Linked DNA regions of Homo sapiens. The protein of the gene in region 1 interacts with the protein of each later gene in a biochemical or structural test. Each region holds a gene or a part of one and is shown on either strand. Other genes may lie near its edges. The genes, in order: SYK, CD72, TRIM31 and HDAC9.

Region 1 (5,495 bases):
GGCCACGGACAGGGCGAAGCCACCCAGGTAGTTGCGGCTCTGGCGCAGCAAATAAAGCCCATCACTCATGCCCCCCTGGACCAGGTAATCTTCTGCCTCCTCCCGGGTGATGTTGCCGAAAAAGAAGGGCAGGTGGTTGGCGCTGTCAGCCATGCCGCTGCTGGCCATGCTTCAGGGGCCGGAGGGCACACACCTGCGCAGGTGTCCACCTGGGCAAGACAGAGACAGAGAACTTTGGTGAGGACCCCACGTGGCAGGGAACGTTTGCTAAAACCACTCAAACCCTTTCAAAGTGGAGACAAACCCTCCCATCTCTGAACAAAGGCACTTCCCTCTTTGGCCCTCCCAACACACAGTTGTCTTTCTGTTCACATCATCATTACAGTTTTCAGCATGCCTTCTAACTAAGCTAAAATCAGAGCATTTGATGGAAGTGACCAAATTAAATAATTCTTTTTTGGGGGGAGTGGGGAAAGACAAAGAATTCTAAAAATAAACATACCGCAAAGAGAAGCAAACAGAAGGGCTATTGCAAAACAGGACTCTTGGGCTGACCCTCAGGGTCCCAGCAGCATACAGGAGGCAGAATCTACATGAGAACAAACCAACTGCTCCTCCTGAGTCCAGACAATGTTAGAGAAGCCTTGCTCCTCATCACAGTGATATTACCAAGGAGGACGCTACCACCACCTCACCCACCTGAGCTGCGAGACGCTGCCTCGAGCAGTCAGTCACACGCTGGTGCTGAGCCCCAGAGGTGAAGTGAGGCCACGTTGAGGGCCCACACGGAACTGTGACTTGTGGTCACCATAAGGCCTTCCCACCTCCAGCCCGGGGCTATGATAGCAACAAGCCACTGCCTGAGACATGAAGAGTGACACCCTCCCTGGCTCCCGAGGCCTGGGGCCCATAGGCTGTCTTCTCCCCGCTTCTCCAGACCACTTCCTGGGCAACGCCACTTCCCATCTGCAGGGCCCGTGCTAAAGAGATAGTGCCGGTTCCCAGCCCACGAGGACATCTGACACAGGAGAGACACTGCTTGCAGTAAATAAATACATTTCAGAAGCAAAAAGAAAGGCGGCCAATGCATATTTAACATGGAGAGTATTCCCTCTCAATCATGGTTGTAAACTAGAAGGATACATATTGCCAGCCCCAAAAGTATCCAAGGAGGCACATTTTAACCAAAAGGGGCTGGTCGTGAATGGAAAATTATCTACATGACTCCATCCATTTATCCAGGGAGCAAAGCGCATGTCCCTCATGGTACACACACACACACACACACACACACACACACACACACACTCTCTCCATACCACATGCACACTACATGCATGCCACACACACTATGAACACATGCCACACCTGCACTACACACACACCATGTACTACATGCACACTATGCACATCACACACACCAAACACACAAACTACATACATACCACACACACGAAACACACTACACACATCACATGCTACACTACATACATGCTACACACACAAAACAGACATGAAACACACCACTGCATGCACACAACACACATCACACACACTACCCCACACACATACACATACACACAAACTACATACACACCACACACATGAAACACACCGCACACACCAAATTCTACGTTACATACACACAAAACACACATGAAACACACCACATGACTACATGCGCACTACACACATCACATACGGTACACCACACACCACACACATCACATACACTACACCACACACACACACTCCATACCACATGGACACTACATGCATGCCACACACACTACGAACACATGCCACAGCTGCACTACACACACACCATGCACTACACGCACACTATGCACATCACACACACACCACACACACAAACTACATACACACCACACACACAACACACTACAAACAACACACACTGCACACACAACACAAATTACATACATACCACATACAACACACTACACACACTACACACACCATGTACTACATGGACACTACACACATCACACACACCAACTACACGTACACCACACACACAACACACTACACATATCACACACTGCACACACAACACACAAAAACTACATACACTCCACATACAACACACTACACACACCACACACACTACACACACCATGTACTACACGGACACTACCCACATCACACACACCACAGACTACATACACACTACACACACAACACACATAACACACTGCACACACAACACACAAACTACATACACACCACATACAACACACTACACACATAACACACTACACACACCATGTACTACACACATCACATACACCACACACACAAAATACATACACACCACACACAGTACACACTACACACATCACACATACTACACACATATCACACACAAACTACATACACACCACACACCATACTAAACACATGCTACACTACATACACACTACACACACAAAACACACACGAAACACACCACACAACTACATGCACACTACACACATCACACACACTACACCACACACATACACCCCCATACTACATGCCCACTACATGCATGCCACACATATGGACACATACCACACATGCACTAAACGCACACCACACACACACAAACTACATACACACTACACACACAACACACTACACACATCTTACACACACTGCACACGTCATACACAAACTACACACACACTGCACACATACTACACACAGTATACACAAACTACATACACAGTACACACAACACACTACGTGCAGCACACAAACTACATACACATTACACACATAACACAGTACACACCCACACACACTGCAAACACACCACACACACAAACTACATACACACGACACACAACACACTACATGCAACACACATACTACACACTACACATAAAAACACACACAAACCACACCACATCACTACATGCACACTACACACATCACACACACTGCACACACACCACACACAAACTACATACATGCCACACACACACCATAGTACACACAACTAACACTACACTACATACACACTACACACACAAAACACACACATGAAGCACACCACACCACAGATCCTGCACCACGATGATGTGAAGCGGCTTCTTCTCAACATGCACTATCCTACAAGGGGCTATAAAATGTAAGAGCATCAGCCTGACACAGGCGACAGAGTTTTCCCCAGACGGTGTCTATCCACAAGTCAGTACTCCTGGGCGAGCCCCTAATGAGGCATGGGTTTTATTATAATTTGAGGGTATTAATCATCATTTCCTGGCTTGCCTCTCACAGCAGTTGACTATCAATGACTTTTCTTTGTCCAACAAGTTTCTAAAAATTCATCTCTTAGCAAGGTGTTTTTGTTTTTTAAAGTATATCTACATTTACTTTTGAGTCTAAGAATGCTGTTAACAGAAAGACATCTCTGGAAACACAGTGTGCTGATGAGTCTCTTGGAAGAAATACTTCTCTTTGGACTGCTTTCCCCTTTCTACAGTTTTTTTTTTTTTTTTTTTTTTAGAAGAGACGGGGTTTCACCGCATTAGCCAGGATGGTCGCGATCTCCTGACCTCATGATCTGCCCGCCTTGGCCGGGCGCGGTGGCTCACGCCTGCATTCTACAATGCTTTTGTTGCAGGCCAGCCACTGCCCCCAGCCTGCTTTTCCCCCACTCCACCCTTTTCCTGCAGTGGGTCTTCTCGGGCCTCCAACCTCATTTCCATTGTTTCCCCTGCAGCCCAGCACGTCTCATACTTCCACGTGGCCTGGGGGCTCTGACACACCCAGGGCCTGAGACGCTGCTGCTCCTGCAATCCTGGTGATGCGGATGCTGGGTTCTGATGCCACCTGAGACCAGGTTCTCCATCTTCTCTGCCTTCCCTGCCCAGGCGGTGTCCCAGCCAGGAACCCAGGAGTCCTCCGCAGGACTTGCGTTCTCTAAGGTTCGTTTTCCAGGCGCCCTTGGTGCATGTTCCTTACTGCCCATATCCATGACCACTGCTTGGCGTAACCCTGTCCTTTCCACTGCTGCCCTTCACTCCTCACCTTCTGCCCTCCTGCTTCCTGACGCCTCCCTCTCCAGCTGCCCGGTCCTCCCTCAAAGCGCACATCAGCCCTTCCTGCCTATTCCAACATGCCCAGTCCACAGACCACACTGGACTGCACCGGGATGCTGTGGCTTTCCCTTCTTGTTCTCACCACGTGTGCTTTCTGCTGAGGCGTGCAGCTCTTCCTCCCAGCCATCTCAGTCATCCTTACAGACCCAGCTCAAATACCCCTGTCACTGTGTACCTGGCCCCGATGCTTGTGTCCCCTCTGCAGGGCCCAGGTTACTTTTTATGTAGTTGCAGAACAGCAGACTGCACCATCAGCTCAAACTGAGACAGTAACTTTGTAGGAACAAAATTTTAAATAAAATGAGAGCAAATACTTTTTAATTCATATAAATCTTAACATAGCTACTATTTTAAAAATTCATTGGCTTGTCACTAATCATTACATCGGTGCTGGCACTTGGGCATGAATCCCATATTGAAGTGAATGGAAAGGAAGTGAGACAGGCTGTGGTCGGGTCTTGGGGAGCATCTGCAGACCCGGAGCAACCTCCAGGCACACGCCAGGGACACTCTGTGTGGCTTTGATGGTGCATTGCAGATATGTTCGCAAGCAGGTGGCAGAAGAATGTGCTGCACTCAGTGTCAGCACCGATGTGGCTGATGGCCCTTTTCTGGCCATGTGACTTCCTGTGCCGGAGTTGACCTGGGTATGTTGGTGGTGATGGTTTGGGCAGAATCACTGGTTCACTGCAAGGACAGCTTATGGCACATTTTTGGGCTACTTAATTGGGGGAATAAACAATGTCCATGGTGTTCCTGTGCATACCTTCTCAGGACTGGCACCCACCGGCACCCACCCGGGGCCTTGTCCTGGTCTCCAACCTCCTCTTTCTCAGGCCACCTTGGCAGGAAATGGCCATCTCCATTCCAGTCACTGCCCACAGTGGCCCAGGCTGCTGTTCTCAGCTCCACTTTTCAGATATCAGCTTTCAGTCAGTATGGCAAATCCAGAGAGTCTCACTTTTCACCCAGCGTAGTCTTGGCCACGGCTGTGGCATCTCTGCCACCCCCACCAACTGAGACAGGGACGGAGCCCGTGACTTTCCCCTGCAGGCATTCCTCCTGCACACACAGACTCAGTCCTTCCCGCCTGATGCTTTTGCCAACTCACAATGCTTAACTCTGACTACAGGAACAGCTCATGGCTCAAATTCTCTTTAGCATTCCCAGGGATCATTTTCTTCCAAATAGTGTTTAGAACTTGCTCCCTATTTTTTCTTAATTCAACATTCCCAGTTATTTTTTTCCATGTGTGACACTACTTCATTCCAAAGCACGAAACTGAGAAACAAACCAGGCCACTTAGCTCCTCCTTAACTCCACCTGTACCCCTCAGCCTGCTGGGTCTGGCACCTCAGTGAACACCTGGGCAGGTAGTGGTTCAGC
Region 2 (4,961 bases), about 55 Mb from region 1:
CCTGAGGGGACCAGGTGGGAAGGAAATCTGATTACCATGTCTTTATGGAGGGGATTATGGAGTTGAAAATACCCAGAAGTCCTAACAAACTTACCTAGTGCGTTGTGTATCATCAGTCAACTTCCAATCCTTGTTAGAGCTGAGGCCAGTCCAATATGAATTCCCTGAACCACCATTTGGCAACAGTGAATTTAAGAAGTAGTAAGAGTGCTGAGGGGAGATTCAGAGAGACCAGAGATACATGGAGAGTGATGAGAAATATGGAAGAAAATGCACACCCTAGGGAGGCCTCAGCTTTGGCAAGGGGGCTGTATATATGACAGCTCTTTGGTAACTTGTCCCTGAATCCATCAAGTGCCACCCTGCAGATGCAGGCTCACTGCTAAATTTGCCTTCCAGCTGAGTAAGAATCTCTGCCAGCCTTTGGAGGGGAGTCATTCTGTGTGCTGTTCTGGCCCCAAGGAACTAATCCCTACAATCCAGCCCACCAGGTGTGGGACCTCTCTGCCTGAGAGGCCACAAGAGTCCAGGAACCTGTCAAGCAGCCCAGGGAGCTGACCAGCAAGCTGAGATGAGATACACATTAAAGTAGAGGCCGGGCGCAGTGGTTCACACCTATAATCCCAGCACTTTGGGAGACTGAAGCAGGTGGATCACCTGAGGCCAGGAGTTAGAGACCAGCCTGACCAATATGGTGAAACCCCGACTCTATTAAAAATACAAAAATTAGCTGGGCGTGGTGGCATGTGACTGTAGTCCCAGCTACTCAGGAGGCTGAGACGGGAGAATTGCATGAACCCAGGAGGCGGAGGTTGCAGTGAGCTGAGATTATGCAAGTGCACTCCAGCCTGGGTGACAGAGTGAGACTCTGTCTCAAAAAAAAAAAAATGTAGATATGGTTAAGTTTCCATTCTCATGCCAACTCTAATCAGTTACTAGGGGCTGCCTGGACCACTGTGCTGAGAAGATGCAGAGGTTGTTTCCAAGCTCAGAGGTCAAGAGTATTATGATTCTCAGTTTCTTCCATGGAAAAGGAATGGCCACCCCAGCCATGTGTGCACTGCCATTCCTGACTTGATGACATATGTCCCTTTACCTAATAGTACCCACTGCAGTCTGTGAGTAAGGATATGCTTACTGATTGTGGATAAATTTCACTGAATGTGGCCAGCTTGGAAGACAGAGTTTCACATTGTTTTTGGCTCTCCTGCCAATTTTTTGAAGTAAGTGAGATGTAAAAGCAGCTTTTCTGATGCATTATCCATCCCGACGGACAGCAGGTGTCTAAAAAGCAGAAAGAGTGTGATAGCAGCAACAGTTGGGATGAAAGTGACTACTCAGCAATCTTTTGCTAACAATATTCCCCCAGAGCTAATCTCAGCACCTTCATGGACTTCTATGATCTTTGCAATCTTTCTTTTGCATCCCCTGGAAACACCATACCTGTCCTTACTTAGTAAAAAGACTTTAACATTCAACAACATTACTTCTTAGCAATCTGGGAGGTCTGTCTTAATAGGGCTGATTTTATTACCCCAATTTCTGAACAATTGCAGTCCACCCTGACACTTTACCTAACATCTCTTGGGCCCATCTCCTCCACTCCCTAAAGCACCCCTCACTGCACATCCTCCACTCCTCCAGCACTGGCCCCCTCCGTCCCTCTCCAATTTCCTACAAGCAGAAAATGTTGTGTACTGTTTTGCAGAAACTGAGCTCTCTCCTTTTCCCTCCTCTCCACCTCAAAATTTCTCTTCTCTGTTCTTCTTTTCCTGACTATCCATAAGAAATAAATATCCCTCTTTCTTCAACATCCTACATCCCAATGTGCACTTCTGATCCCAGGCCACCTCTCTCCATTGCTTTGTTCCATCAGTCCTACCTTCATCACTCAAAAATCATTCCCTCTCCACTAGCTCCCTCTCTTCTCTCTACATATGCTCATGTCCCCACCCTGCTACTCCCTTGAGCTACTGTCCTATGGCAACTTAAAGGAATAAAAAGAAATCCCTGCTGGGCACAATGGCTCACTTCTGTAATCCCAGCACTTTGGGAGGCCGAGGCGGGGTGGATCACCTGAAGTCAGGAGTTTAAGACCAGCCTGGTCAACATGGTGAAACCCCACCTCTACTAAAAATACCAAAAAATACCCAGGCACCATGGCGCATGCCTATAATCCCAGTTACTCGGGAGGCTGAGGCAAAAGGATAGCTTGAATCCAGGAGGCAGAGGTTGCAGTGAGCCCAGATCACACCACTGCACTCCAGCCTGGGAGTGCACTTCAGTCTCACAGAGCGAGACTCCGCCTCAAAAAAAAAAAAAAAGAAATCTGTATGGCCAAATGGAAGAGGGTGAGGAGATAAGTGGCACACTGAAAGGTAGGCAGGAGTGATGGAAGCCATGTTAAGGATTTTTATTTTTATATTATGAGGAAGAGAAAGTCAGTGTAGGGTTTTACATAGAGGAATTTTGTTCACTAGCTATATCCCAAGTGCCTGGGCACAGTGCTAGAACATATTATATGTTATGTATTCCATAACTGTTTATGTAATCAATTAACTGGAATGCTGTAGATTGGGTGACACGATCAGATTTTTGTTTGTAAAAGATTACCCTGGCTCCAATATGAAGAATGGACTGCAGGGAGAGGAGTGAGTAGGAAAAACATTTAGAAAGCTGTTGCAGATATCCTTGCAAAAGATGAGGATGGGCAAAAATCCATATGGATATATAGACTTGGTGATGGAAAGTGAAGGGAATTCCTCTCTGAAAGAGTGGAAGATGAGGACATCTGCTGAAAGTGAGGGAGAAGGAGTTACTATGGAGAGCAAGCTGACCATTGCAAAGGTTGCCAGGCAGTGCTGAGAGACTAGAGTCTCAGTGGCACTGAGCAGAATGATTCCACAATTTGTCACACCTTGATGCTGACCATGGGCAGTTGGGTTCATCCAGAGTTCAAATTTTGCCCATCAGGTACACTAGAAGGATAATGGAACAAAGAAGTGAGTGAGCCAGGTGCGGTGGCTCACGACTGTAATCTCAGCACTTTGGGAGGCTGAGGCAGGAGGATCGCTTGAGTCCAGGAGTTCGATACCGGCCAGGGAAACATAGTGAGACCTTGTCTCTATTTAAAAAAATAAGTGAGTAGTTGAAGTGATGGGCTCCAAACCCATGTTAGGTAGGGAGAGAAGTGTGGACAGGAGAAGCTGATGGGAAGAGAGAAAAAGGGGAATCAGTTGATTGGAGGCCTGGACTGATGGGAAGGGAGAAAAAGGGGAGTCAGCAGATTGGAGGCCTTGATGAGATCAAAAAAGTGTGGGGAAAACCTGCAGGAGTGGTGGGCAGCTGTGATCAGAGTGGAAGTCTGAAACCATCCTTTCGCCGGAAGAGCAATTTGGGAGGTAGAGGTCTAACATGCTGCTAAGAGCAGCCCTGGCATGGAACTGATGGTCACAGAGGGTAAGGTTAAGGAAATGAGGGCAAGGGGTGTCTGCACATAATCTTGCTGTCTTATGCCTGGGGAGATCACCCAGATGACCCCCAAGCTAGACAGAGCCTAAACCTGATCATAGCCCAAAAACACCCCAGTCCCCTTAGGCGTGGCACCTTGCCTAGACCCTCAGCCTGTTTTGATACAGCCTTGCCTCTTTTATGTGTCCCTTTCCCCATCTCCACTTACTGGCTGGGGTCCTGCTTTCAAAATGAATGGACACCCCATCCTAGTTCCCTACACCACAACTCCCAGCTCCACCTCACTGTGAGTGCTGAGCGCCTCACTGCCTTGCCCCACCACCAGGTTGCACTCCATGTCAGCCAGTAAGTCTTACCCTTTGGGGAGATCTCAGCTATAACGAAAATTAATTAAAAATGAGGTCCCTGTCTTTAGAAAGATGTGCAAACCGCCAAGTTCACATCCAAATTTGGGGGCGTTCCCAGATCCTTGTCACTGATATCAACCGGAAGAAACCTTGGACAGTGTGATTTGGACTGCTGGCTGCCATCCTCCTCTCCCCTACAGGATGAGCCTTGGAGCTGGGTGGGTCCCCCTAAATCTAGTATGCAGCTTGGTCCTTCTCTCTGTTGGCCAAGGCTGAACAGCTCATGTCAGCCACCACTCTGGTTCACTGCCCCTTTCCTGAACACCTCACAGGCCCCTGGGTGATAGACTCCTGCCACTACTATCTCCTTGCTCCAATCCATCCCTCCCTTCTCTCCTCTCCCCAGAGCGGATACCTGCTGAGCCGCATGTGAAGAAGGGCTTCAGTCTGTTCTCCATGTTGCTCAGCTTCTGCTCCAAGGCCCTCCTCTGTTGCTCCTCACTTTGCAAGGTCTCCTTCGTCTTCTGTCTGTCTGCCTGGCAGGCCTGTAGCTGCCCTTCGGCCGCCTGATGAGCCCTCTGTTCCACCTGTAGTGCTTCCTGACTCTGCGCCAGCTCTCTCCTGGACCCCTGCAGATCCTCTGCACTCTGTCCCAGCTGCGTTATCTTGAGGCGGAGCTGCTGCCTCAGGCTGCTGTTAGTGACTTCCAGAACCCTGTTCGTCTGCTGGAGCTGCTGAGACACCTGCAGATCTGTTTGGCCACAGAGATTTGGTGGATGTCTTCTCCAGCCCTGCCCTAGTGCCCTGAGACTGCAGCATCAGCCCTTTTTCTGCTTCTTGCAACTTTTTGCATCACAGGCTGAAATACAAGATTTGACTGACTAAAGCGTAAGGAGGTACTGGATTAGGTGAGGACAATTCAGGAAGACAACAGCCCTGGCTGGAAACCAAACCCAAAGCTAAGGAGGTGGTGGTAGTGACTATGATCCCTGCTGAGGAAGATCAGCTTTGGGGCGAGAGTCGGGACGAAAGTCGTTCGGTGTAAGTGGGAAGTAGGGACAGCCTTACTCACAGCGCACTCCCAGGCAGATGGCGGTCACTCCTAACAGCAGGCAGGTGAGGAGCAGGCCGAGCAGGAGGTAT
Region 3 (5,495 bases), on another chromosome or scaffold:
AGGTGCTCAGGACAAAGAGTGCCTTGAGGCTTCACCCTTTAGCTTCAGAAGGCCTACTGTAGGGCTAACCACCCAGGAGCCAGGTGGGGTAAGGGGGGGCCCCACTCTCCTAAAGCCTGGATGGCAGTCCTGCCCTCTTTCCCATGAAAGAGGGCTTGAGAGGGGGAACGAAGACAGAGCTCCTGCAAGGGGAGGCCGAGTGCCTTCATCTCCCAGTTCACCCCTGCCAGAAGAGACTCCTTTTGCAGGTAGAGGATGAGCCCAGAAGCTGGGGACAATGGCCCATTCCTGGCCTAGATTTCCTGTAGGGGTGCTGGACTGAGTGGAGAACTATAGGGTGGAGCCCCTAGATGGGGAGCTACTTCTGGCCCCAGCACCCTTCCCCCAGTGTCTTGCAGCCCCAAGACAGCACAAGACAGCCTGGGGCTAGGTAGTGGGACAAGCGTGGGTAGCTTCCCTGAGAGCCACCAGCCCAGTCATGGGGACTGCTCAGGGGAGACGCGGGGGCCCTCTTAGGAGGGGTCTGCAAACCTAGAGCATAGGAAACACTGCCTGGGAGCACTTCACCTACAAGGGCCTTTAGCGGCTTCAGGGCCCAGCCACACCCTTCTCCACGTACGTGTTCCAGACCCAGTCACCCCGAGCAGGGAGAACCAACCCTCATAATAAGAACTGTGGAGATTGGACCTGTGGTATAAGTAGACTCCCTACCACCTCCTGTATTTCCTAGGCTTTAATAGGGCCAGGTGGCCATTGTGCCTTCTTCTTTGGGGTAAAAATAAAATAAAAATAAGAGAAAAAAAAAAGAAGGAAATAGGGCCAGGTGGGAGTTGGGGGACTGTGTGTGTGTGAGTTTGTGTATGTGAAAGAGGGAAAGAAAAGGGGGATACAGAGTAGAGCACACCAGTCTCCCCAACTCCAAACCTGATGAAGTGGAAAGGGCTGGGCTCCTTTATTGAAATTCCAAACTAGAACCAAACTATTCTTGACCTGAAGAGCCTAGAAAGGTGCTGGATCGGGCTGGACGTGGTGGCTCACGCCTGTAATCCCAGCACTTTGGGAGGCTGAGGCGGGTGGATCACAAGTCAGCAGTTCGAGACCAGCTTGACCAACCTGGTGAAACCCCGTCTCTACTAAAAATACAAAAAACTAGCTGGGCATGGTGGTGTGCGCCTGTAACACCAGCGACTTGGGAAGCTGAGGCAGGAGAATCGCTTGAAACCAGAAGGCGGAGGTTGCAGTGAGCCGAGATTGCGCCACTGCACTCTATCCTGGGCAATAAGAGCAAAACTCCATCAAAAATAAATAAATAAATAAACAAATAAATAAAGTTGCTAGATCGGCTGAGATCATGCCCAGTGGGGTGGGAGGAGCTAGACAAAGCAGAGCAGTTAGTGGACAAAAGAAAAGCTCAGACAACAAAATTAAGAATAAAACAAAACATGCTTTCCTGTTTATGTCTGCCGAGTGGAGATTCCCGGCTGAATGGGTGGAGATCTTGGGGCATTGCCCTGGTCCTCCTTTTCCGTAGTCCCAAGGGGAAGTGTTTGTGTATGGGGGGCTGGGGGTTGGGGTGGGGGAGGTGGGTGTGGAACTCCAGGTGATAATTTCAGAAGATTCCATCTAGCTGTCTTTATGCCCACCTTAGACCAACACAGTCTTCACATTAAGGGGAGTCCTTACAAATACTAACCCTTCTTCCTAGTTGCAAACACAGAAAGGTTTATGAAAAATATCTGGCGAACATCTAAAACCCAAGTCATCCACTACTGTTCTGCTGATTTCTGTTTCCCTGTAAGGCTGGAAGAGGTTTCTCCCCAGAATGTCACTGATTTTGAATTTATTTTCTCTTCTTCTGTAGGCAGGAGGAGACACCAGTGTGCACCAGAGAAGGAGAAGTCAGAGATGACAGTCCCTGCCTGAGGCCATCTCTGGTCCACCAGACAACTCATCACCAACTTCCCAACAGCCACTGCTCTAGGCCAGGTGTCCACATGGGGAATAGGTCCAGGCCCTCTATGGCTCTCGCAGGAGTCAGGGAGGCAGATAAATAACATATCACAAAGACAGAATATAAGAAATGCCTGGGAGGAGGCATACTGATGCGTGGAAAGTACTCAGCCAGAAGCCTGGCACTAGAAGGGCCCAGGGATTGTTGGCATGTATGAGTCACAGTTCCATTTCAGTGGAGTGAGCAGGGAGAGAATCTCCTGGAAGTAGGTGAATAGAGAAAATACAGCCTCTTCCTTACCTTTGAATTTTTTTAGGCTCCCTGTGATGGAGTCATGTCTTGATTTTGCTTCACTGAGTTTTTTCTCCAGTTCCAGAGGAACAGGGGTTGGGTTGAGAAACTGAAACTCTTCACTTCTAGGAAGATGTGGTTGAGCTGGTTGGTGAGATCAGGGGATGAGGTGTGGGAGAAGGAGGATCTGAGATACGCGGTTGAGAAATGAGGGGATGAAGACCTGGGGGTAGAACTGAGAGCAGTGGCTCACACCTGTAATCCCAGCACTTTGGGAGGCTGAGGCGGGTGGATCACCTGAGGTCAGGAGTTCAAGACTAGCCTGGCCAACATGGTAAAACCTGGTCTCTACTAAAAATATGAAAATTAGCCAGGCTTGGTGGCAAGCGCCTGTAGTCTCAGCTACTTGGGAGGCTGAGGCAGGAGAATCACTTGAACCTGGGAGACAAAGGTTGCAGTGAGCTGAGATTGCACCACTGCACTCCAGCCTGAGCAACAAGAGCAAAGCTCCATCTCAAAAAAAAAAAAAAAAAAAAAAAAAGAAGACCTGGCGGTTAAGGGATAGTGAGCTGGGAGTCAGAAAGTCAGGGCTAGGGATATGGGGCGGGAGTGAGGTAGGGCATAGGGAGATATGGAAATGAAGATGGGAGATGGAGACAGAGAGGAGGGAAAAAAACAGGGTCAGGGAGACAGAGTAGGGGACCCAGGAGCTATTCAGTTGAGCAAGGGGGCATTCAGGAAATAGTAGAATCTGTGCTGAAGAAGGAGGAAGGCTGAGAAAACAGCTGGTTTCTTTAACAACCAACCACGTGCTAATATGGTTGGCATAGGCATTCCCCGGCTGCAGCCTAAATGTATGAATGCAGAGTTAGAGGTGGGTGGGTATTTCTGAGAGAGGAATGTTGACTGCATTTGGATATACGCTGAGAATTGTGTGTGGATGAATCAGTAGGCAAAATACATTTGGGGTGGCCCATCATACCTGCACAAGACGACTTTGATATCCTAGAAGAGAAAGAGAAACAGCACAGCCTCAGCACTTGGCTGATTCCCAGGAGCCAAGGAGGAGATACAGAGCCTGCTGGGTGTGGGGCAGAGCAGGAGGAGTAAGAACCCCTCCAAGTCTCTCTTACCCCATCCTCCTCCCCTCTCCCCACCACGAAGGGCTTCTCCAAGAAGCACTGCTCTGCCAGTAAGCAGAAAAGTGTTTTGACCTCAAGAAGAACTGAGTGAAGAAGAGAAGAGTGAGATTTAGAAGATGAATTTGGCTCTGAGACTGAACAAGGGAGCCTGCTAGCCAGGGCAGGAGAAAGGCTAGAATGGCTTTGCATGATCTTTCTTAAAATAAATAAATAGGTTTTTGAACCTGTGGGAGAATAGATGACTTGAGGAGGAATCATCTCAGCTTATTTTAAGCACCAGCTAGACTTGCACTGTCCAATATGGTAGCCACCAACCACATGTGGCTACTGAACATTGGAAATTGTGGCTAGTGTGACAAAGAACTGAATTTTTAATTTCATTTTTACTAATTCAAATTTAAATTAAAAATAGAGGCCAGGCACGGTGGTTCACGCCTGTAATCCCAGCACTTTGGGAGGCTGAGGTGGGCAGATCACTTGAGGTCAGGAGTTCGAGACCATCCTGGCCAACATGGTAAAACCCCGTGTCTGCTAAGAATACAAAAATTAGCTGGGCGTGGTGGTGGGGACCTGTAATCCCAGCTACTTGGGACTTGGGCCTAGGAGGCGGAAGTTGTAGTGCGCCAAAATCGCGCCACTGTACTCCAGCCTGGGCAACAGAGCAAGATTCCATCTCAAAAAATAAAATAAAATAAATAGAAGAAGGGTAAAGTACTTTTTCCATTAAACACAACTTTATTGATTTGGTAAGACTATATTTTACTTTAACAATTGACAATTTAGCATCTGAATTGAGATGTGCCAAAGTGAAAAATATACACACAATTTCAAAGACTCAGTGTAAAAAAAAAAAAAAAAAAAACCACCAAAAACCCAGAATGTGAAATATCTCATTAATACTTTTAAAATATTCATTACAGGCTGAAAGGATAATATTTCAGATATATTGAGTTAAAATATTTTATTAAAATTAATTTCACTTTTATCATTTTAATGTGACTAACTAGAAAAATTTGTAATTCCATATGTGGCTGAAACTACATTTCTAAATCACACATGTGGCCAGAATTATATTTATGAATTACATATGTGGCTCACATTTTCATTCTAATACATGCGGCTCACATATTGCTATTGGACAGCACTGGGCTAGAGGTAGGATGGTTGGGGCAATCTCAGGTATTCTGCCAGTGGTCCATGCTCTGACCTGAGACTAGGGATGGGCTGCTACCTCTCTGCAATTCTGCCCCCAAGGGACTCACCTCCAGCAGCTGCCTGGGTGGCATGTTCTGCTTGGTCTTCAGGGAATCAACGAGCTTCTTGAGATCGTTCAACTGTGGCTCAGTGGAGGCAACATAGTGTTTCCCCGCTTCCGTTCCCTCATGACCCAGCCAGTAAATCCGTGATAGCAGGAAATTCTTCTCCTCCTCTAGGACTTGATGCAGGAGTTCAAATTCTGTGAGGATCCTTTGCTTCTCATGTTCTACCTGGTCCTAAGAAACAGGGACAGGCAGAGGGTGAGAGGATGGCCTCGAAGGTCCTTCTAGCCCACTTTATTCAGCCATTAATTTTATTAAGTTTGTGTGGAATTCCCAACCAGAGCAATGTGCCAGGGCAGACCTGGAAGAAAGGAAAGGAGAGGAGAACAAACTTCTAAAAGCACCTACTACGTGCTCAGCTTTAAGCGAAATTATTAATTTATGGTTTACCACTTGCCTTCAAGGAACTGTCTAATACAATTCCAGAAGGCTTTTCAGTTTATAATCTTTCATATAGATTTTATTCCTTTCACGCACACAGGAAAATAGGTAAGTGGGGTCACAATGTCTTCATTTTCCTTCTGTCTTTTTTTTTTTTTTTTTTTGAGACAGTCTCTCACTCTGTCACTCAGGCTGGAGTGCAGTGCACGATCACGGCTCACTGCAGCCTCATCCTCCCAGGCTCAAACAATACTTTCACCTCCCAGCCTCTCTAGTAGCTGGGACTACAGGCGTGTGCTACCACGCCCGGCTAGTTTTCTTTCTTTTTTTTTTTAATTAAGAGGAGAGTCTCGCTATGTTGCCCAGGCTGGTCTCAAACTCCTGGGCTCAAGCGATCCTCAGCCTCCCAGA
Region 4 (5,495 bases), on another chromosome or scaffold:
TGCACAAGATATTTATCACAGAGCATATAAGAAAGGAAGAAAGCAAGAGAACAAGCGAGCAAGCAAGAAAGAAAAAGAAAGGGAGTGAGATATAATAAGAACAAGATAATCCAGAGAAGTAATTAACTCAAATTTTATTTCCTTAAAGATATCAGTTTTCTTTCTTATGTCTCCTTTCCTAATACTTAACACACTGTATTACTGGTTTTTTTTTTTTTTTTTTGAGATGGAGTTTCACCCTTGTGGCCCAGGTTTGGAGCACCATGGCAGGATCTCAGCTCACTGCAACCTCTGCCTCCTGGGTTCAAGCGATTCTCCTGCCTCAGCCTCCTGAGTAACTGGGATTACAGGCATGCACCACCACGCCCGGCTAATTTTCTGTATTTTTAGTAGAGACGGGGTTTCTCCATGTTGGTCAGGCTGGTCTCGAACTCCCCACCTCAGCTTATCCACCCACATCGGCCTCCCAGAGTGCTGGGATTACAGGCATGAGCCATTGCACCCGGCCTGTATTACTGTTTATTTCAATAATTCACTTCCTGCTCCCCATCCTATAAGCTCCATGAGGACACTGAAGGTTGTTTTCTTAGTGCTTAAAACTGTGTCTGCACACAGTATTTAATGATTTGTTTAACGCATCCATACATAGATTAATAATTCATTAAAGTAACTACTAAACAAAGTATGAATTTTCTTAAAATTCCTGCTCTTATGGATTTAATGGAATGAATATGAAAAACAGATATTAATAAAGATATTAATATTCTAGTTAAAATAGAAACTGCTAGGCATGAATCAGTGCAATTCTATTAATACTATAACAGAGAAATAAAGAATAATGTTGTCAAGGGGATGGGGCATGGCAGAGATCTATGTCAAATTACCTCACAACAAAAATGCCTAAAGAGATTTTGAAAATTTTCTATATATCATTCAAATAGTGAAGTGACTAGAGATTTGCCCTTTTATTTTTTAGGCAGTGCTTAGAATACTTCTTTAAAATCATCAGTATGTCTAAACAACTGTTACGTATTCTGTTTTAATCAATTACAGTTTTATTTCACCAGAAAAAAAATCCTGTGGTAATATTTAAACTTGAAATGGGCCCAGGAGAAAATTACCAATACCTTATTACTTTTTGTTTGATATTTTGTATTTGAGGGAAGTTCTACTTTAGAAACTCTTTTTTCCTCCAATCAGAAAAGCAAGGTGTACTGGCAAAAGCATCAGTCTTCCCTTGATGCTGGTATAAAGAAACTCTTGATTTTTTGAAAAGGTTCTTCCATGGTATTGGGGAAAAATGATATAAATGAATGTGCAATGACATCATTGCACAAAAATATTAATACCATATATTAGCAATAGAACCTGTTTAATGCATTTCTGATTTGTAAAATGTCTCAGAAAACAAAAGATCAAATGTTGTAAGCCTTGATTTCTTTATGATTAAACTTCTCAAAACAGTTTCAGTGAAAAATAGAATATTCAAACTCATGAGCAGAGATAAATCATTCTCACAGGGTTTCCTCTCCAGCCCAGCACTCTCCTTTCTGACTTTCCCCATTATTTACTGGCAGATATAACAGTATAAATACTATACAAGCCCATTCCAGGGATATTTCTGCTAAGCCCTTGAACACTTACACCGTAACTGTAAGAGGCAAATAATCTTAGAACACACAACTATCCCACAAATATCCCAAATATGATATTAAAGTATAAGGCAACAAGTAGGTAAATTATTTTGTATGATTAATAACAGTTACATTATGTAGTTACACTGAACATGAATATTTTATAAACACATTAAAATAATAGCAAGATATGAAAAACTCTTTCAAATTTAATAAGTCAATCCTTGCATCACCCATGCCCCTAAAACTATATAGCTTTGTTTCTAATTCTTCTAAAGATTATTAGTAATTCAAACACATTACTACAAATTTTATACCAGGAAGCCCATCATATTTAATCTGATACAGGTTTAGAAATAATCCTACTTATATTTTCTTGTTCCCACTTCATTTTTTGTTTCTCTAAATTCCTCAAAAAAGAATCATAAAAAGGAAATAAAAGAAGATATATTTAAATATGTCATTTGTATGTCAACATCTTCATGTGTGCCTGTATTTCCTGCTATAAGTATCTCAAGAGTAAGGACCATCGCTTCAGTATGAATGGGTTTCATAAAGGTTCATCCATGGAAATGGGGAAAAATGATAAAATTTCTGTGGTGATTTCTTACTAATGGGCATTCTAAATGGTTAAATCAAGTATACAGCAATATATTATACAGAAACATGTTAGCTTTGGGCATCTAAGTTATGAATCTGACCCAATGTGAAATAAACATCCTTGTCACGTCACGGAAGCAGGTGAACAGTAGCCACTCACTTCTTAAGCGTTCTATTGTGAATATTTCAGGATAGGACATGGGTTTGATATTTTCTTTAATAAGCTTCCTCTCTGTCCCCTTAGACAACTGAGGGCAGGTAAAATATTTTCAAAATCTGGAGAATACCCAACGTGAATATGCCAACTTGATGAAACATATGGAATACATCCTTGGAGAAAAGCCAACTGGCGACCTGCTTGAGTCATCTAAACACCCAAGCTGAGAGAGGTTAACATATAAAGATCAGCTTTGGACTTTGAAGTTTTCTGGTCTTCATTTTGCCTAATTAAGACAAGATTTAATAATCAAACCACTGTACAAACATGTACCTAAAAGTATAGGTTTGTTTCTAATTCTGGGAAGAATTCTTAACAGATTCAAAGGAATCAGCTCCACATGGGAAAAGGTCTCTGATAAGATTTGCTTTTCTCATTGCTAAAATGCAAATGCCTGCTTTTCATCTGAGTTTTATCCAGTGTGACTGAGGTTAGCATTCGCCTGTCAAAATCTCGAGTTTGATACTGAAAAGGAAAGATTCTGATATTAGCACACCATCTGAATCTGAAACAGTGGCAATTAGTTAATAAAAAACTGTATTCCAAAATATTCTTAAAGGTATTCATAGAAACCATTTGTGGATCACAATTTCAAAGTGAGTAATTTACCTACTTTACCATAGTAAAATATATACATCCATGTGTTTCTAGGAAATAGAACCAAGCATAGCAGAAAAGTCTATCTACTATCTAATACTGGTTTTATAAACAAACCTAATTCTAGATCAAAACACTATATGGCAAAAAAATACGATCCCTAATCTTCCCTCCCACATACATTTCTTGCACTAAACAGTGGACAATTTTTCAAGAATACCTAATAATTTTAAGTTGTGCTGAAAGGCCACAAAACAAATAAACAAACCTAACTCTACCATAATATAGAAAACATATGCAGAGTCACATACAAGTCAGTGAGTATTATGCCATTAGTCAGAGAAGGAAATTGGCTCTCTCCTGAAGATACTGATTTGATATAAAATAATTTGATATGAAACCGAAATATTTGCTAAATTTAGAGAAGTGCTACAGCAATAAAATAGGCATTATCTAATGACACAGAAAGGGTCTGCAATGCATACTAAAAGGTTAGAGAGAGAGTTGTCCCTGCCAGCCACCCCATCTCTAGCACCCCAATCCCACACATACTTTTGCTACTTTGAGAGTAGCGAAGGGCTAGGCTGGAAAACTTTCTGTTCGGAAGCATGGTATCCAATCCATGCTTCCTTCATGGCTCTGCCCTTGTTACGATGGAGGCCAAAAGAAGAGAAAAACTCCAGCAACACTTGCCATAAAACCAGCAAGTGATGAAGATCCCTTTCCCCTACTGCCGTTAGAAAGATGATTAAGCCTCTGCCCATGAGAGTTTATTTTGTTTTGTTTTGTTTGTTTCTTACATCATAGTACAACAAAGTTATTACTAAGCCAGGTTTTAGCTATCCATTTATCAGTAAACAAAGTATCAGTTTGCAATATCATGCCTCTCATGCCTCTGTAACATAACTTGTAGATGATACAGCACAAAGGCAAGGGAATAGAATTTTAATACTCAGGACCTTAATATTTTCCAGGAATTTTCCAGGAATGAGAAGATGGTGCTTTTTTAAGCCTACCACAGCAAAAAGTAGTGGAAAAACTGTCCAGACCAGGTTCTTTAATATCATTTTGCTTACGAATTCATAGAAAATCCTTTACTGGCCTGTCTGATATTATGCTGCAATCACTGTTTCTTTGTAGTTGCCTCAGCAGGAGAGCTCCTAAGGATGTGGTACGGTACAGACATCCGCTGTCTATTTTAGCAACATTAAGACTTCCAGGAAGAAATGATCACAAGTTTCCGAGAAACTACTCCAAACGCTTATTGGAATGAAGTGGGGCATTCGCAAAATAAATGTAACGTAGATGCATACAAGTTGCTGAGAAGTGCCTTACTGGCTAATCTTGGCCTATCTGTCATCACCTGTACAAACTTTTTGACATGTCAACACACCACATTCAAGTCTGCCTCAAACTTTTTCTGCAACACTAAAAAATGAGGCTCCATATACATATGCCCGTATGGGCTTGTGTACCAAAATATATACCTGATCATAAAAAGATCTTGTGAATGTATCATCTCAATTTTGCTACAAATGTCTTATGAACATAATGGTGGTTAAAACACTGATATTGTGATGGTGTCCTTGAGCCAAGAAAGCAGGCTTAGGATGATCACATCCTTTTTGCTGTGACTCCCATCAACATTCCTCTTAGACACCCATATCAGTGAAGAGATACCCAATTTCCAAACTGGCGGTTAGAACATTTTGACTTGGCTTGGAGGCTTACTTTGTTCATGTGGATCTGCTGCTGGTATTGCTTCTGCTTCTCCAAGAATTGCTGGTGTTGCTGTTGAATGACCAGCTGAGCCAACGTGCTCTGAGGCAAAGGTGCAGACTGGGTTCGGTTCAGGGGTCTGTGACGGGGCAATTTGTGGGTACCTCTAATGCCAGGTGAAATTCTCTCTTTTGTTGCCAAGGGAGACTGAGGATGTAAGGGAACTCCACCTGAAAAAAAAAATACATGTATATGTGTGTATACACACACACACACACACACACATACACACACACACAATTTTAAGAAAAGATAAGAAGCCAAAGAAAACAGATACATGGTATAAACTGTAAGAAAATTAGTGAATTAGTGATGCTACCAGGCAAACAACAGAAGAATAGGTCAGGTGTGGGAAGAGAGAAATGTCAAGGCATTGGACAGGTACGCATCTGACCATACGACTCACCACAGCCTAGTCTGGTATGAATAAAGGTTAAATGAGGTGAGTCCTCCTACCCCAAGTGGATCTGAAGGAATAAATAAAGATGATAGCCTTTCCCACAGTACCAGGTATCAGGGAAACTTTTGTATAGCACTGTGGATCTCCATCAGGGTCTTGAGTAAAAGAGACATTATCCTGGATCACTAATAAAATAAAACCCTAAAATGACCTGCAAATGGTGCCATAATGAATTACCAGCTACAAGAAGCTTTTGCTGTCGCATTTG

What was found.
Region 2: of the proteins of SYK (region 1) and CD72, one has a biochemical effect on the other in vitro, tested with the Homo sapiens proteins (one study listed by BioGRID).
Region 3: the proteins of SYK (region 1) and TRIM31 form a complex in vitro, tested with the Homo sapiens proteins (one study listed by BioGRID).
Region 4: the proteins of SYK (region 1) and HDAC9 form a complex in vitro, tested with the Homo sapiens proteins (one study listed by BioGRID).

Annotation. Positions count from the first base shown.
Region 1 is NC_000009.12:90,838,572-90,844,066, reverse strand, and holds part of SYK (tyrosine-protein kinase SYK), read right to left. Parts: intron 210-5,495; 5' UTR 169-209; coding exon 1-168. UniProt on the Homo sapiens protein: Non-receptor tyrosine kinase which mediates signal transduction downstream of a variety of transmembrane receptors including classical immunoreceptors like the B-cell receptor (BCR).
Region 2 is NC_000009.12:35,611,710-35,616,670, forward strand, and holds part of CD72 (B-cell differentiation antigen CD72), read right to left. Parts: coding exon 4,891-4,961; intron 4,678-4,890; coding exon of another isoform or gene 4,637-4,677; exon of another isoform or gene 4,570-4,636; coding exon 4,234-4,569; intron 1,285-4,233; coding exon 1,139-1,284; intron 211-1,138; coding exon 95-210; intron 1-94. UniProt on the Homo sapiens protein: Co-receptor of B cell receptor (BCR) that plays both positive and negative roles on B-cell functions. Recognizes the Sm/ribonucleoprotein (RNP) self-antigen ligand, and coligation of CD72 and BCR inhibits BCR signaling.
Region 3 is NC_000006.12:30,105,802-30,111,296, forward strand, and holds part of TRIM31 (E3 ubiquitin-protein ligase TRIM31), read right to left. Parts: intron 4,878-5,495; coding exon 4,647-4,877; intron 3,248-4,646; coding exon 3,225-3,247; intron 2,387-3,224; coding exon of another isoform or gene 2,368-2,386; coding exon 2,252-2,367; intron 1,987-2,251; exon of another isoform or gene 1,862-1,986; intron 1-1,861.
Region 4 is NC_000007.14:18,647,968-18,653,462, reverse strand, and holds part of HDAC9 (histone deacetylase 9), read right to left. Parts: coding exon 5,465-5,495; intron 4,998-5,464; coding exon 4,780-4,997; intron 334-4,779; exon of another isoform or gene 227-333; intron 1-226. UniProt on the Homo sapiens protein: Responsible for the deacetylation of lysine residues on the N-terminal part of the core histones (H2A, H2B, H3 and H4).